Homo sapiens: one gene and its partners. The protein of the gene in region 3 purifies or fractionates together with the protein of the main gene of each other region. This does not show direct contact. Each region holds a gene or a part of one and is shown on either strand. Other genes may lie near its edges.

Evidence for each region.
Region 1: the proteins of SLC44A5 (region 3) and DNAJC16 purify together in Homo sapiens (affinity purification with mass spectrometry; one large-scale study listed by BioGRID and IntAct). This does not show direct contact.
Region 2: the proteins of SLC44A5 (region 3) and MACO1 purify together in Homo sapiens (affinity purification with mass spectrometry; one large-scale study listed by BioGRID and IntAct). This does not show direct contact.
Region 4: the proteins of SLC44A5 (region 3) and UPK3BL1 purify together in Homo sapiens (affinity purification with mass spectrometry; one large-scale study listed by BioGRID and IntAct). This does not show direct contact.

What each region holds. Positions count from the first base shown.
Region 1 is NC_000001.11:15,543,848-15,547,347, forward strand, and holds part of DNAJC16 (dnaJ homolog subfamily C member 16 isoform 1 precursor), read left to right. Parts: intron 1-551; coding exon 552-736; intron 737-2,919; coding exon 2,920-3,024; intron 3,025-3,500. UniProt on the Homo sapiens protein: Plays an important role in regulating the size of autophagosomes during the formation process.
Region 2 is NC_000001.11:25,458,397-25,461,896, reverse strand, and holds part of MACO1 (macoilin), read right to left. Parts: coding exon 3,005-3,500; intron 1-3,004. UniProt on the Homo sapiens protein: Plays a role in the regulation of neuronal activity.
Region 3 is NC_000001.11:75,601,115-75,604,614, reverse strand, and holds part of SLC44A5 (choline transporter-like protein 5), read left to right. Parts: intron 1-3,500.
Region 4 is NC_000007.14:102,636,525-102,639,791, forward strand, and holds the end of UPK3BL1 (uroplakin-3b-like protein 1 precursor), read right to left. Parts: intron 2,676-3,267; coding exon 2,599-2,675; intron 2,311-2,598; coding exon 2,190-2,310; intron 1,110-2,189; coding exon 1,001-1,109; 3' UTR 501-1,000; downstream 1-500.

The sequences.
Region 1 (3,500 bases), about 60 Mb from region 3:
ACAGTTTTTGCCCTGAGTAACTGGAAGGATGGAGCTGTCATCAACTGAAATGGCAAAGACGTGGGTAGGACAGGTCTGTGGGAGGAGATTAGGGGTTCGTTTTTGGAAATGTTAAGCTTGAGAAGTCTAGTAGACATCCAAAAGAAAATGTACATTTATCGGCCTTTAATATTGAATGTGTCTCCAGTGTTAGCAGAGTAACTGGCCCTCCAAATATATGGTTGGATGAAAGAACAAGAAAAGTTGTTCAAGTATTAAGTGAAATAAGTATGAGATGACCCCATTTTGTTTTATGTATATGCATACACACACACACACACACACACACACACACACACATTTGTAACTCTTCTTACATATTGCCAGATTGCTCTACAGAAAAACTGAACCAATCTAGAATTCCAGCAGTGAAAGAATGCTAGACAGTCTATTAGGAAAGACATCTCCTATGAGGTCGGGATTTCAATTTCACACCAAAAAATTACTTAGCACTTTTTCCAGCTGCCATGGAGACATAAAAAGGCTTCATTTGGATCTTCCATTCTTTTCAGGTGTAGGAATTGGCGTGGTCCATGCTGGGTATGAGAGACGCCTGGCCCATCACCTAGGGGCACACAGCACGCCCTCTATCCTAGGAATCATTAACGGGAAAATCTCCTTCTTCCACAATGCAGTTGTCCGTGAAAATCTGCGACAATTTGTAGAAAGTCTTCTTCCAGGGAACTTGGTGGAGAAAGTAAGTATCTGTCAAGGAAACTATGGCTGAGAAGTAGTTTAAGAGGTACCTAGGACTGTTAATTGCCCAGAACATTTTCTGTAGTCCTCTCAAACCTGAGTTTCATTGTGAGGAAGGCATGACACTTATTAATTAATTAATTACTCAAACTAAATCGTTTAAGTGAAGTCTGTAGGAGACTAATAATTGAAACAGATGAAGTACAGAGACTGAAAGAATTAATTCCTATTAATACCCATCTTGCAGAACTTACACTGTCATAGGAATCTGAGCCTAAAATGACAGTGCCTATTTTCTAAACAAAAAAATTAAATCACATGTTAGAAAGAATTAGGGATTTCTTTCTGGCTCATAAATTTGTTCATGTGAAGATATTTGTCTTTATGCAAATTTAATTATATTTGGTTATATGTTTAACGATCATATCTATGGAAAATGCCAGATTCCATGAAATCAAATATTATTTTTGAAACTTCAGAAACTTACAGTGACAATAATATGAATGAATTTCACAAAGAAAAGGTTGAAATAGAGAAGCCAGATAAAGTTCACATTGGTCTATTATTTCCATATTTAAGCACCTAATATGTTTTTTTCAATATCTTAATTTAGGGATCAAAGTAACTAGGAACGGACTCTCATTTTGCTTTAAATAATTCATTCTCTTAAGAATACAGGGAAAGTGAACATAAAAAATTTTCATCGTATTTCTACATGTGCTATTCCTAGACTGTCCTACTGGGATCATTATCTATAGGAGAAATATTTGTTGGAATTAACTTAAAAGTTTGTCAGAGAATATTGGAGGCTTCTAAAATGGTGATAGATTGTCCTGATAGATCCTCAAACATTTACATAAAATATCTCTTCTGTGCCCGGCATAGATTAACATAGCCGTTTCAAGCAGCTCCCAAGCGGGTGGTTATTTCCAGTATGTTGGAGCCCATCGTAATGAGTTGGGAAAGGCTTCCTGGCAGAAGTGACCCTTGGACCAGGTTGGGTTGCAGGCAGGCAGAAATCTGGAGACATGAAATAGCCCGCTTTGTAAGAAGTTTTCACTGGTGAGCAGCAGAGGAGGGGGATGGAGAGGTTATTAGGAATCTCCCTGTGAGGGCCTCAGAGCACCTTCACGCTCCTTTAAGGAACTTGGGCCTTGGCCCACATGGAGCCGTTGTAGGGGTTTGAGCAGAAGAGTGAAATGATCAAATTTGAGTTTTATATAAATCATTCTAGATGCAGTATGGAAAGATAAACTTTTTTTAACGACTAAGAAAAATTTCTAGCTAGATAATTTATTCATGTTTTTAATTTCTCTCAGGAATATTTTAAGATATCAGTGGAGGAAAGTAACAATTCAGATAACAATAAATGAAATTATATAATGTATAGAGGGGGTGGACCAGCTTATTTTTATTTACGCCGTTTAAAAAGAGCAAGCTGGCCTGGAGTGGTGGCTCATACCTGTAATCCCAGCACTTTAGGAGGCTGAGGTGTGAGCATCGCTTGAGTCCATAAGTTCAAGACCAGCCTGGGCAACATACTGAGACCCAATCTCTACAAAAAATGCAAACATTAGCCAGGCATGGTGCCATGTACCTGTAGCTCCAGCTATTCAGGAGGCTGAGGTGGGAGGATCACTTGATCCTGGGAGGTTTGGGAGGTTGAGGGTGCAATGAGCCATGATCATGCCACTGCACTCTAGCCTGGGCAACAAAGCAAGACCCTGTCTCAGAAAAAAGGGTGAGGGGCAAGCTGGGAGACTGAGGTGTGATAGATAGATGGGAGACTGAGGCATGATAGATAGATGATAGATAGATAGATAGGTAGATAGATAGATATTGAAAGGGGCAGTTGTGTGTTATTTTCTGCTGGCTAGTATATTAAGAAGTATACTCTGTAATTAAGCAAGAACCAACTCTGGAAGCTCAGTTTTTATAATATGGTCAGTAATTGTTTCAGACAGGATTATGATTTCAGTCTGTAAGAGTTCAATGAAAATATGAAATCAATATCACCATTCTTTTAATAGCTTTAGCCAAATGAAGACAAAAAGATTAGTTATCTGCATTTTTATTTTTTGCAATCTTTTACACTTACTTGATTTGTTTATTTTCTCCTGACTGGAGTATAATACAATTGTTAAGAATTAAATATTGAGACTAACATTCTATTTTCAATTTAAGGTTACAAATAAAAATTACGTCAGATTCCTCTCTGGCTGGCAGCAAGAGAATAAGCCTCATGTCCTTCTGTTTGACCAAACGCCCATTGTGCCACTGTTATACAAGGTACTTTCTATGCTAGGATAATGGTTTCTTTTTCTTTTCTTTTCTTTTTTTTTTTTTTTTTTTAGCAGAAAGTAATCTCTGAGTTGGAACTTATAGCCTATTTGTCTTTTTTGTAAGAAACAGTTTCATCCATGAGAAATGTTTGAAGACCAGAAATTTTACATAACCATCATACATTGAGTACTGATTAATGCCAGTTACTGTGTTAGTGCTTTCTATGCACATATCATGTAATCCTCAGAAGAACCCAGTGATGGAGATACTATCCCTGTTTCTTTTTTTTTTTTTTTTGAGACAGAGTCTCGCTCTGTCGCCCAGGCTGGAGTGCAGTGGCGCGATCTCCTCGGCTCACTGCAGCCTCCATCTCCCAGGTTCAAGCGATTCTTCTGCCTCAGCCTCCCAAGTAGCTGGGACTACATGTGCGTGCTACCATGCCCAGCTAACGTTTCTATTTTTAGTAGAGACAGGGTTTCACC
Region 2 (3,500 bases), about 50 Mb from region 3:
AGAAAAATGTGAAAATGTATGAAAATAAAAAGAAAAAATAAATGCCCAATACTATCAAGGGATAACAACTATTGTTAACAATTTGGTTATTTTCCCTTTAAATCATTTTTCTATGTATATTAGAAAAAATTGTTTTTCATTAAATTGCTTTCTCCTTTATTCATGAAATGCTTTGACATACTTCCCCATATTCTTTAATATGGCTTGAAAGTATGATTTTATAGTATCTATATGAAAAGTTTATCAAATGGATGGACCATAATTTATTTTAAATTTCTCCCATTATTGGATATTTACATCACCCTTTTTTTTGAGGGGGGGGAAGGAAGAGAACCAACATTTATTGAATGCCTGTACCTTAACAACAGCACTATTCTATTAGTTTTATCTCAACTTTCCAAGAAATGGAAATCAGAGGGGTCAAATAATATGCCCAAGGCCACTCAGACAGTAAATAGAAGGTCCAGGATCCAACCAAGGTGTGATTTAAAAACCTATATTCTTTGCATAGTATTCTTTATTTTATTTTATTATTATTATACTTTAAGTTTTAGGGTACATGTGCACAATGTGCAGGTTTGTTACATATGTATACACGTGCCATGTTGGTGTGCTGCACCCATTAACTCGTCATGTAGTATTAGGTGTATCTCCTAATGCTATCCCTCCCCCCTCCCCCCACCCCACAACAGTCCCCGGAGTGTGATGTTCCCCTTCCTGTGTCCATGTGTTCTCCTTGTTCAATTCCCACCTATGAGTGAAAACATGTGGTGTTTGGTTTTTTGTCCTTGCGATAGTTTGCTGAGAATGATGGTTTCCAGTTTCATCCATGTCCCTACAAAGGACATGAACTCTTCATTTTTTATGGCTGCATAGTATTCCATGGTGTATATGTGCCACATTTTCTTAATCCAGTCTATCGATCCCCTTATTTTTTATAACATTAAAAGTTGAAAATAATACCATGGGAGCTTATAAACCTACTTAAATATAATGTTGTCTATTAGTCATTTGATAGTAAGTAGTTCTCCAAAACAGAGTAATACCTGGGACACTGTAGGTCAAGGCAGAGTACGCATTAGTGACCACAAGAAGCAGCATACTCCTTAGGTGTAGGCACGGGGGCACTGGACCCATGTCATCATCTCCAGCTTACTGGACAATTAGCCATCTGGGTCCTTGAACTTCTCTACTAAAAGCAGATCAGATAGTAGAGTCAATCAATATCACAAACCATCATTTAGTAATAGCTTGACCGCTATTACTAAACTTGTGTCAGCCTGGGCAACATGGCGAGATCTCCTCTCTACAAAAAAATTAAAAAATTAGCCAGGCATAGTGGCATGCGCCTGTAGTCCCAGCTACACAGGAGGATGAGGTGGGAGGAAAACCTGAGCCTGGGGAGGTAGAGTCTACAGTTAGCTGTGATCACGCCACTACACTCAAGCCTGGGCAAAACAGTGAGATCCTATCTCAAAAAAAAAAAAAAACATGTGTAGGAGAAAGGATGGTAAATAGCTGTGACAGATGTTTTGTGTATAGCATTTAGTGAATTTGTGGGATATTCCTCTGAAATAGAAGGTAAACTAATTGGTCTTTCTCCCATGGGCATCTGGAGGAGAGTTCTCTTCCACGTGTTTTTTCTGCTGGGCACAATGGCCAGAATGTCCTAACAAATGGATATGGATGCCAGCCAGGCAACAGCAAATAGCACACTTCCAAAAGTAGCCTGGGGGCTGTGAAACCTCTAGAGCCTGTATTAGTAGAACCCAAATATACCTCGCTTAGTTTAACTGCCAATCAGAAAATTAAAACAAATTAATAATCTAGTTCATACCATTTATAATGCTGGAAAGCCTCCCTCCTAGAATAAACGGACTGCCTAAAGGGCTGCCTAAAGCAAGCCAGAGAAAGAAGAATATAACTTACTGGAAGGGGAGAGTTTCAATTGCCCTCTTGAGTTACATACACACAAAAAAGCTCCAGTTTAGATCTCAGTTTCCAAATTAAAGATCTGAGGTGAAAGGAACATATTTGTGTTTGCCTAACATAAGCCATATAAAATATAGTAAAATTAAGTCTGAGCCAGTCAATGTAATAAAACAATGTTATTCTTTTATGGCCGGGCACGGTGGCTCACATCTGTAATCCCAGGACTTTGGGAGGCCGAAGCAGGTGGATCACCTGAGGTCAGGAGTTTGAGACCAGCCTGGGCAACATGGTGAAATCCTGTCACTATTAAAAATACAAAAAAATTAGCCTGGCGTGGCGGCAAGCACCTATAATCCCAGTTAGTTGGGAGGCTGAGGCAGGAGAATCACTTGGAGCCAGGAGGCGGAGGTTGCAGTGAGCCGAGATCGTGCCAGCCTGGGCAATAGAGCAAGACTCCGTCTCAAAAAAAAAAAAAAATTCTTTTAATTAAAATGAGAAAAGCAACATTCCTAATTAAACTTTGTGTCTAACACTGTTTCTCCATGGATTTTTGTGAAAGAGATTGCTTTTCAAATCTAACTTTCCCAGAGTTATCTAGGATAATTCATATTCTAAGTGCAGAAAAACAAACAGAAAAACAAAACAAGCACAAAGTAGTAAGGACAACTTTCTCACCCCTCTCCTGCAATGTATATCTGTTTGACAGAGATTTGCGTGAACAAGCACAAACTCTTCTTTTTGTGTTTACGCCAAGAGAACTCTGGACATGCAAACAGAAAAGGACAAGGACCAAAGAAGTGCCTTACAACACGACTAGAAGAATCAAGTTACAGGTCAATTTGTCACATGTGGGAAGTAATCAGTGTCACTCATTATTCAGAACACTGCAAAGAGCTGAAATCAATGCTTCAACACAATAACACAAGGTGGCCAACAAACTCATGTAAAACACCACACGTCACTAGTCACAATATCTGATTACAAACAATCCCTACAGGCCCATATGGGAGTATGTCAAGAGTATGTCAAGTTTACTGGAAAGTGTTAGTAAGGATGCAGCATGTGCACTTACCTGACCAGTGCGTCTGGTTTGCTTAGCTGGTTATTAGGAATACAGTTTTCCATTAAGTCCTTGTGTGTACTTGGGCTCTTGCTAGTGCATTTCTGCTTCTTCTCATTTTTACTAGATGAGGAAGGAATGCTCCCATTTGTGGCGCTATGACTTCGAGGTGAAGAGTTCACAACTCCACTGGCATTTTTGTAATTTTTTGAGGAAGCAGTGCATGAGTCCTCTTTCAAGAGATTTTCTGTACTTCCCACAAGATCATTATTTAATCTTTTACTATTGATATGGTTTTCCATATACTCAATCTCTTGTATTTTAGAGTCTACAGGTTGTAGAATATTGTTGTTATTTATTCCAAGGTTGTGTTTTTTGGCATCCTTGTCCTTTTCTTTCCCTTTTTCTCGGTATTCTATCTCTGGCAAAGTTGTGGAGAGTTTTTTGTTGGCTGGGATACCTCCATTGTGGTGTATAAGGATCGAAGAATCCATATCAGGTAATCCTT
Region 3 (3,500 bases):
ACTCCCCAAAGCAATCTACAGATTCAATGCTATTTCTATGAAGCTACCAATGGCATTTTTCACAGAATCAGAAAAAACTATTCTAAAATTCATATGGAAGTAATAAAGTAATAAAGAGCCCAAATAGGCAAAGTAATCCCAAGAAAAAAGAACAAAGCCAGAAGCATCACATTACCTGGCTTCAAACTATATTGTAAGGCTACAGTAAGCAAAACAGCATGGTACTGGTACAAAAACAGACACATAGACCAATGGAACAGAAGAAAGAACCCAGAAATAAAGCTGCATTCCTATAGCCAGCTGACCTTCAACAAAGTAAACCAAAATCAGCAATGGGGAAAGGACTCTCTACTCAATAAATGGTGCTGGGATAACTGGCTATCCATATGCAGAAGAATGAAACTGGACCCCTACCTTGTTTGATATGGAAAAATTAACTCAAGATGGATCAGAGAATTAAATGTAAGACTTCAAACTATAAGAATCTTAGAAGAAAACATAGGAAACACCATTCTGGACATTGACTTTGGGAAAAATTTATGACTAAGTCCTCAAAAGCAATGACAACAAAAGCAAAAATTGCAAGTGAGACCTAATTAAACTGAGTAGCTTTTGCACAACAAAAGAAACTATCAACAGAGTAAACAGACAACCTACAGAGTGGGAGAAAATATTCACAAACTGTGCATCTGACAGAGGTCTAATATCTAGAATCTATAAGGAACTTAAACAATTGAACAAGTAAAACACCAATAACCCCATTAAAAATAGGCAAAAGAAAGACATGAATGGACAGTTCTCAAAAGAAGACATACAATTAAAAAAAAGAAGACATACAAGCAGCAAAAAAAAAAAAAAAAACATGAAAAAATGCTCCACATCACTAATTACCAGAGAAAGGCAAATCAAAAATCACGAGATACCATCTCATATAAGTCAGAATAACTATTATTAAAATTTAAAAATATTTGGGTGAGGCTGCAGAGAAATGGGAATGCTTATAAGCATATATACACTGTTGGGAATGTAAATTAGTTCAGTCACTGTGGAAAGCAGTTTGGAGGTCTCTCAGAGAGCTTAAAACAGAACTACCACTTGACCCAGCAATCCCACTACTGGGCATATATCCTCAAAAAACAAATTATTCTACCAGAAAGACACATGCACCCGCATGTTAATTGCAGCACTATTCACAATAGCAAAGACATGGAATCAACCTAGGTGCCCATCAACAGTGAATTGGATGAAAAAAAAAAAGGTACAAATACACTATGGAATACTATATAGCCAAAAAAAGAACAAAATCATTTCCTTTGCAGCAACATGGATGCAGTTAGAAGCCATTATCCTAAATGGATTAATGCAGTATCAGAAAATCAGATACCACATGTTCTCGCTTATAAGTGGGAGCTAAACAACAGGTACTAATAGACATAAAGATGGCAACAATTGATACTGGGACTGCTAGAGTGGAGAGGGAGGTTGGGGGAAAGGGTTGACAAATGAACTGTGGGGTACTATGCTCAGTACCTAGGTGACAGGATCAACTGTACTCCAAACCTTATCATTACACAATATAACCAGGTAACAATGTGTATATGTACCCCCTGAATCTAAAATAAATGTTGAAAAACTCTCAAACCCAAATTAAATATACATAAATAAATTTACATTTTATTAAAAATGTATTACTACTCTAGATTTGCCTTACAGGAAAGTCAAAACTTATTTTAAGCTTAGCCTATGATTATATACATTTGTACGTACAAGTTTAAAAATATCCAAAGTCATAAAATTTAACAAAAAAGGTAAAAGCTACTTACTGGGCATTTATGCTTCACAAACTAGTATTAACAGCACCTTTCACTTTGAAATACTTTTTTTCGAAGTGAAAAACACATTTTTCTTATTTATCTCAGCCTCTTATCACACTTTTGTTTGGTTGCACAAGAATGTCATCACATTCTTTACTCATGGCAATGACATTGATTCTGCTGATTTAACACCTTTGCTTTACTGAAAGAGTATTGGTGACTAAAGGAGGACCATTATTGCTCTTTAAAAAATGTTTAATCATAAATAGATGTGTCCAGGGATATCTTAACTGTATGAGGTATGATAGGCTTGAAATTATAAAGCACAGCTTTGGAATACACCCCTCCACAATCCTTAACCACTCAGAAAGTCTTACGTTAATACATATTATTTTTTGAACTTTATGAAAACTGCATTGAATAATTATCACACTTCCTACACACCAACTTGTATTTAATGATTTATGGAAACATTACTAAGACAAAAGAAGGACATAGCCTTCACTTGACTAATTCTAAGACCAAGGCTCCCTATGTTTTAACTTCTGTAAACTCTCACTGCCTGAATAAATACCTTAGGTATAATGAAGCGTAGGCAAATAATAGATTATAAATAAGTTGACCGAGGTCAAGAGAGGCATTTAACCTATTTAACCTATTTGGGAAAACAACCCATTTTCAAATTTTTAACAGCAGTAAATGGTAGAAAAGTATACTAATTAGAAATAATCATTTACTAAAGCAAATCTTTGAGGAAGTCTAATGAGTAGTTTCTTTAGCCAATTGCTTGTATTAAAGGACTGGAATAACTTTTGAATATTCAGAATTTTCACAAGTTCAGACTTCCTTCAGTTGGCCCTATTTAATGAGTTTTTATGCTGCATCTTGTATTTCTGAAAATTGAGTTTTTGTTTGTTTTGAGGCTGAGAATTTTGAGAACTGTCATTGTCAGACCAATGTCTCAGGAATCATTAGGAAAACAACTCGGGGTGGGAAGGTGGTTAGATGATGTCGTTGAGTGATCTTTATGGAAGGGAAATTTGTGAGAGATTTTCTAAATAAAGATGCAAGATTTTCATTGCTTTAGATATGCTAAATTTTTTTCCTGGAATCAGTCAGACCTTGAGATAGCTCTTTACCCAGCTTGTGTTATTTTGGTCCCTGCAGAAGTGCTTTTGCTGATTTGTGCTTACCTGTTATAATATTGGCTGGCATTGAGAAACTTGACATTGTATTAAGTTCAAGGATGTTATTTCTCTCTCTTTTTTATTATACTTTAAGTTGTGGGGTACATGTGCAGAATGTGCAGGTTTGTTGCATAGGTGTACACATGCCATAGTGGTTTACTGCACCCATCAACCCGTCATTTACATTAGGTATTTCTCCTAATGCTGTCCCTCCTCTAGCCCCCCAGCCCCCCAGCCCCCGACAAGCCCCAGTGTTTGATGTTCCCCTCCCTGTGTCCATGTGTTCTCATTGATCAACTCCCACTTATGAGTGAGAACATGCGGTGTTTGTTTTTTTGTTCTTGTGTTAGTTTGCTGAGAATGATGGTTTCCAGTGTCATCCATGTCCCTGCAAATGACATGAACTCAAGGGATGTTATTTCTTGTGCTGATCACTGTTTTTAGAATCTGTATTATGAGGATCTCATGGATAAATTTCTCTGAAATGTCGCTAGCCAAA
Region 4 (3,267 bases), on a different chromosome or scaffold from region 3:
GCCATGCTGCCCCGTGGCCTTTGGTTACCAGGAGGCTGTCTGGGCAGGACAAGAGGAGCACCTATCTCAGGTCCACAGTCCGCCAACAAGCCCAGCTAATTTTTTGTCATTTTTGTAGAGATGGGGTTTCACCATGTTGCCCAGGCTGGTCTCGAACTCCTGGGCTCAAGTGATCCTCCTGCCTCAGCCTCCCAAAGTGCTGGGATTACAGGCCTGAGCCACCGCAACCGGCTTTGGGTCCACAGTCTTCACAGTTCCCAAGGCATGTTCACCTTGGTTTAGCCTTACTGTGGCCTTGTGGGTTCAGGGTTACCATCCTCATTTTACAGATAGGGACAGTAAGGCTGGCAGAGAGGCCTGTCCTGCCCCAGGTGACAATTTCTCTAGGATCCTGAGCCTTGCCCTGGTCCTACACGCCCTTGGGGACCTCCTCAGGAGGAGGAGCCAGGGGCAGTGGTGCAGAAAGACTACCCAGGTGTATGATGTCACGGACAGGCAGGGAGGTTTTGGGGGCATTTATTTCCGATAGAGACTGGCACAAGCTTTGGGCTAAGGACACCCGCCCCCACCCTCATCTAGAAACAATCTCTCTCGCCAGACTTGATGGCTCACGCCTGTAATCCCAGCATTTTGGGAGGCCGAGTCGGGCGGATCACAAGGTCAAGAGATGGAGGCCATCCTGGCCAACATGGTGAAACCCCATCTCTACTAAAAATACAAAAATGAGCTGGGCATGGTGGCGTGTGCCTGTAGTCCCAGCTACTCAGGAGGCTGAAGCAGGAAAATCGCTTGAACCCGTGAGGCAGAGGTTGCAGTGAGCCAAGATCGCGCCAGCCTGGCGACAGAGTGAGACTCCGTCTCAAAAAAAAAAAAAAAAAAATAGTAAAGAAAAGAAACAATCTCTCTCAGGGTCCAGAAGCTTCAGGGCGTGTCCCAGCTCAGGCTCTGCAGCCTGGGCCAGGGAGGAGGTGGAGGGACACGTGGGCCCCTCTGGAACCCCTCAGGAAGCCCCCTCGGCAGGAGTGCTGAACGCGAGGTGCGTGGTGTATCTTCTCACACTCCCTGCCTCCTCTGGGCCTGATAGGGAAGTGCTCCTGCAGCTGTTGAAGCTTGGGAGGGGAGGAGAGAGGGAGAGATGATGGATGCTGAAGAAAGGCTCTGGCCGAGATCCCACAGCCATTGGCTAGCATGCTCTGACCCATCGCATAGGGGAAACTGAGACTCCACTGGCTGGGCAGAATTAACCAAAGGGACTGAGGCGATTCCTTCAAACCTCACAAATCTAGCTCATTGCTCCTGCTCCCCATCACTCTCCCCCTCCACCCTCCACACCTCAGGACCCCGCTCAAACATTATCTGCCTGTCTCCCCTGATCAAAACCCACTCCCGGCTCCCATAGGCTGCAGGATACAGCCCAGTTCCTCAGCTAGGCACCTGGGGCCCCTGGCCTGGCCTGGCTGCATGCACCCCTCCTGCCCCTCCTGCCCCCACACCTCCCCACCCCCTTTTTAGTCACTCCCTCTCCCCCTCCTCCCCAAATCCCAACAGGGCTAGGTCTCCCCTTTTCTCTAGGAAGCCTTGTGGACACTCTCTGTGCCCCAGGCTCAGGCACCTGAGCTCTGTATGAAATCCTGACACCCCCCCCTTTTTTTTTTTAAATGGAGTCTCACTCTGTCACCCAGGTTGGAGTGCAGTGATGCAATCTCAGCTCACTGCAACCTCCACCTCCCAGGTTCAAGCCATTCTCCTTCCTCAGCCTCCTGAGTAGCTGGGATTACAAGCACGTGCCACCACACCCGGCTAATTTTTTGTATTTTTAGTAGAGCTGGGGTTTCACTATGTTGGCCAGGCCGGTCTTGAACTCCTGACCTCAGGTGATCTGCGGGCCTCAGCCTCCCAAAGTGCTGGGATTACAGGCGTGAGCCACCGCACCCGGCCTGTATGGCGTCTTGAGGCAATGCTCAGAGCTTGGTGTGAAAGCAATTCACCTCCTCCTTGGGCGCCTCCCCGACTGGGGTGTCCGCAGGCGGCACCCACTTGCAATCCCAGATGCTGCCACCAGGGGGTGCACAGTGCCCGCTTGGAAGGTGGGCAGGGGCGGGCGGGGAGGAACTAGAGAGGGAGGGGTTAATGCCCAAGGGCCCCGCCCCTCCCAAGAGGCATGGGCGGTCTCAGCCCGGTCCACTCACCAGGTGTATATGAGCACAGCCAGGAGGACCGTGAGGAGGACGGCCAGGAGGATAGACAGGATGGCGATGATGACCACGGTGCCCGGGCTCTGGGGGCCGGGGACAGCCCGAAGTGCCTGGGCTGAGGGCAGTGATGGGGGCCGCACAGGCGGGCAGGAAAAGAAATTTTACCTGACCGGAAGGGGCCCTTGGGCAGAATCCAGACCAATCACCGCCCTGCCTCCCCTACTACCACCCAGGCCTGGGGGAAGGGGGTGGCTGGGGGAGGGGCGCCTGCAGATTGCAAGATGGTTGGCTGCCTCTGACTCAGTGGTGAGCTGACCTGTTCCCCCAGCCCATCCTCAGTCCTCAGGACCCCCAGGCCCCAGCCCCCTGCCCCTACTGTTTGACCGGAGCCTCTGGCCCCTACCTTGCTGCAGGCGAGTGTCGCTGGACCACTTGGTTTCAGCCACGGGTCCTTCGTCATTCATCACCAGGAACTTCACCCTGAATGGGAGACCCAGCATTGGACATGGGGGTCCCCCGGAGTCCTGAAACCATCAGACTTGGTGCCTGCAAGTCTGTCCCCTGGAGTCCCAGGCCCTGGCGAGAGCAGCCCGGGGAGGGGGCCGGAGGCTGGGGCGAAAGAGCCCAACAGAATGGGTTCAAATCTAGGTGTGACATTTCCAGTGGTGTGACGTCCCTCCCCCTCTCTGGGCTTCTGTGTCCTCATTTGGGAAAGGTAGAGGGCGAGTATTAGATGTCTCAGAACTGAACATGCGTGAATCAAGCATTTAGTGAGGGGAGACCCTGTCTGGATGGAGAGACGCCACCTGAGTGGTCCACACAGCCTGTGGGGACTGGGGCTTGAGGTGGGGAACCTTCTGCTCAAGAAAAGCAGGATAGGCCAGGCATGGTGGCTCACGTCTGTAATCCCAGCACTTTGGGAGGCCAAGGTGGGCCTTCAAGATCACTTGAAGCCAGGAGTTGAGACCCGCCTGGCCAACATGGTGAAACCTCATCTCTACTAAAATTACAAAAATTAGCCAGGCATGGTGGCAGGTACCTGGCCAACATGGCGAAACCCTGTCTCTACTAA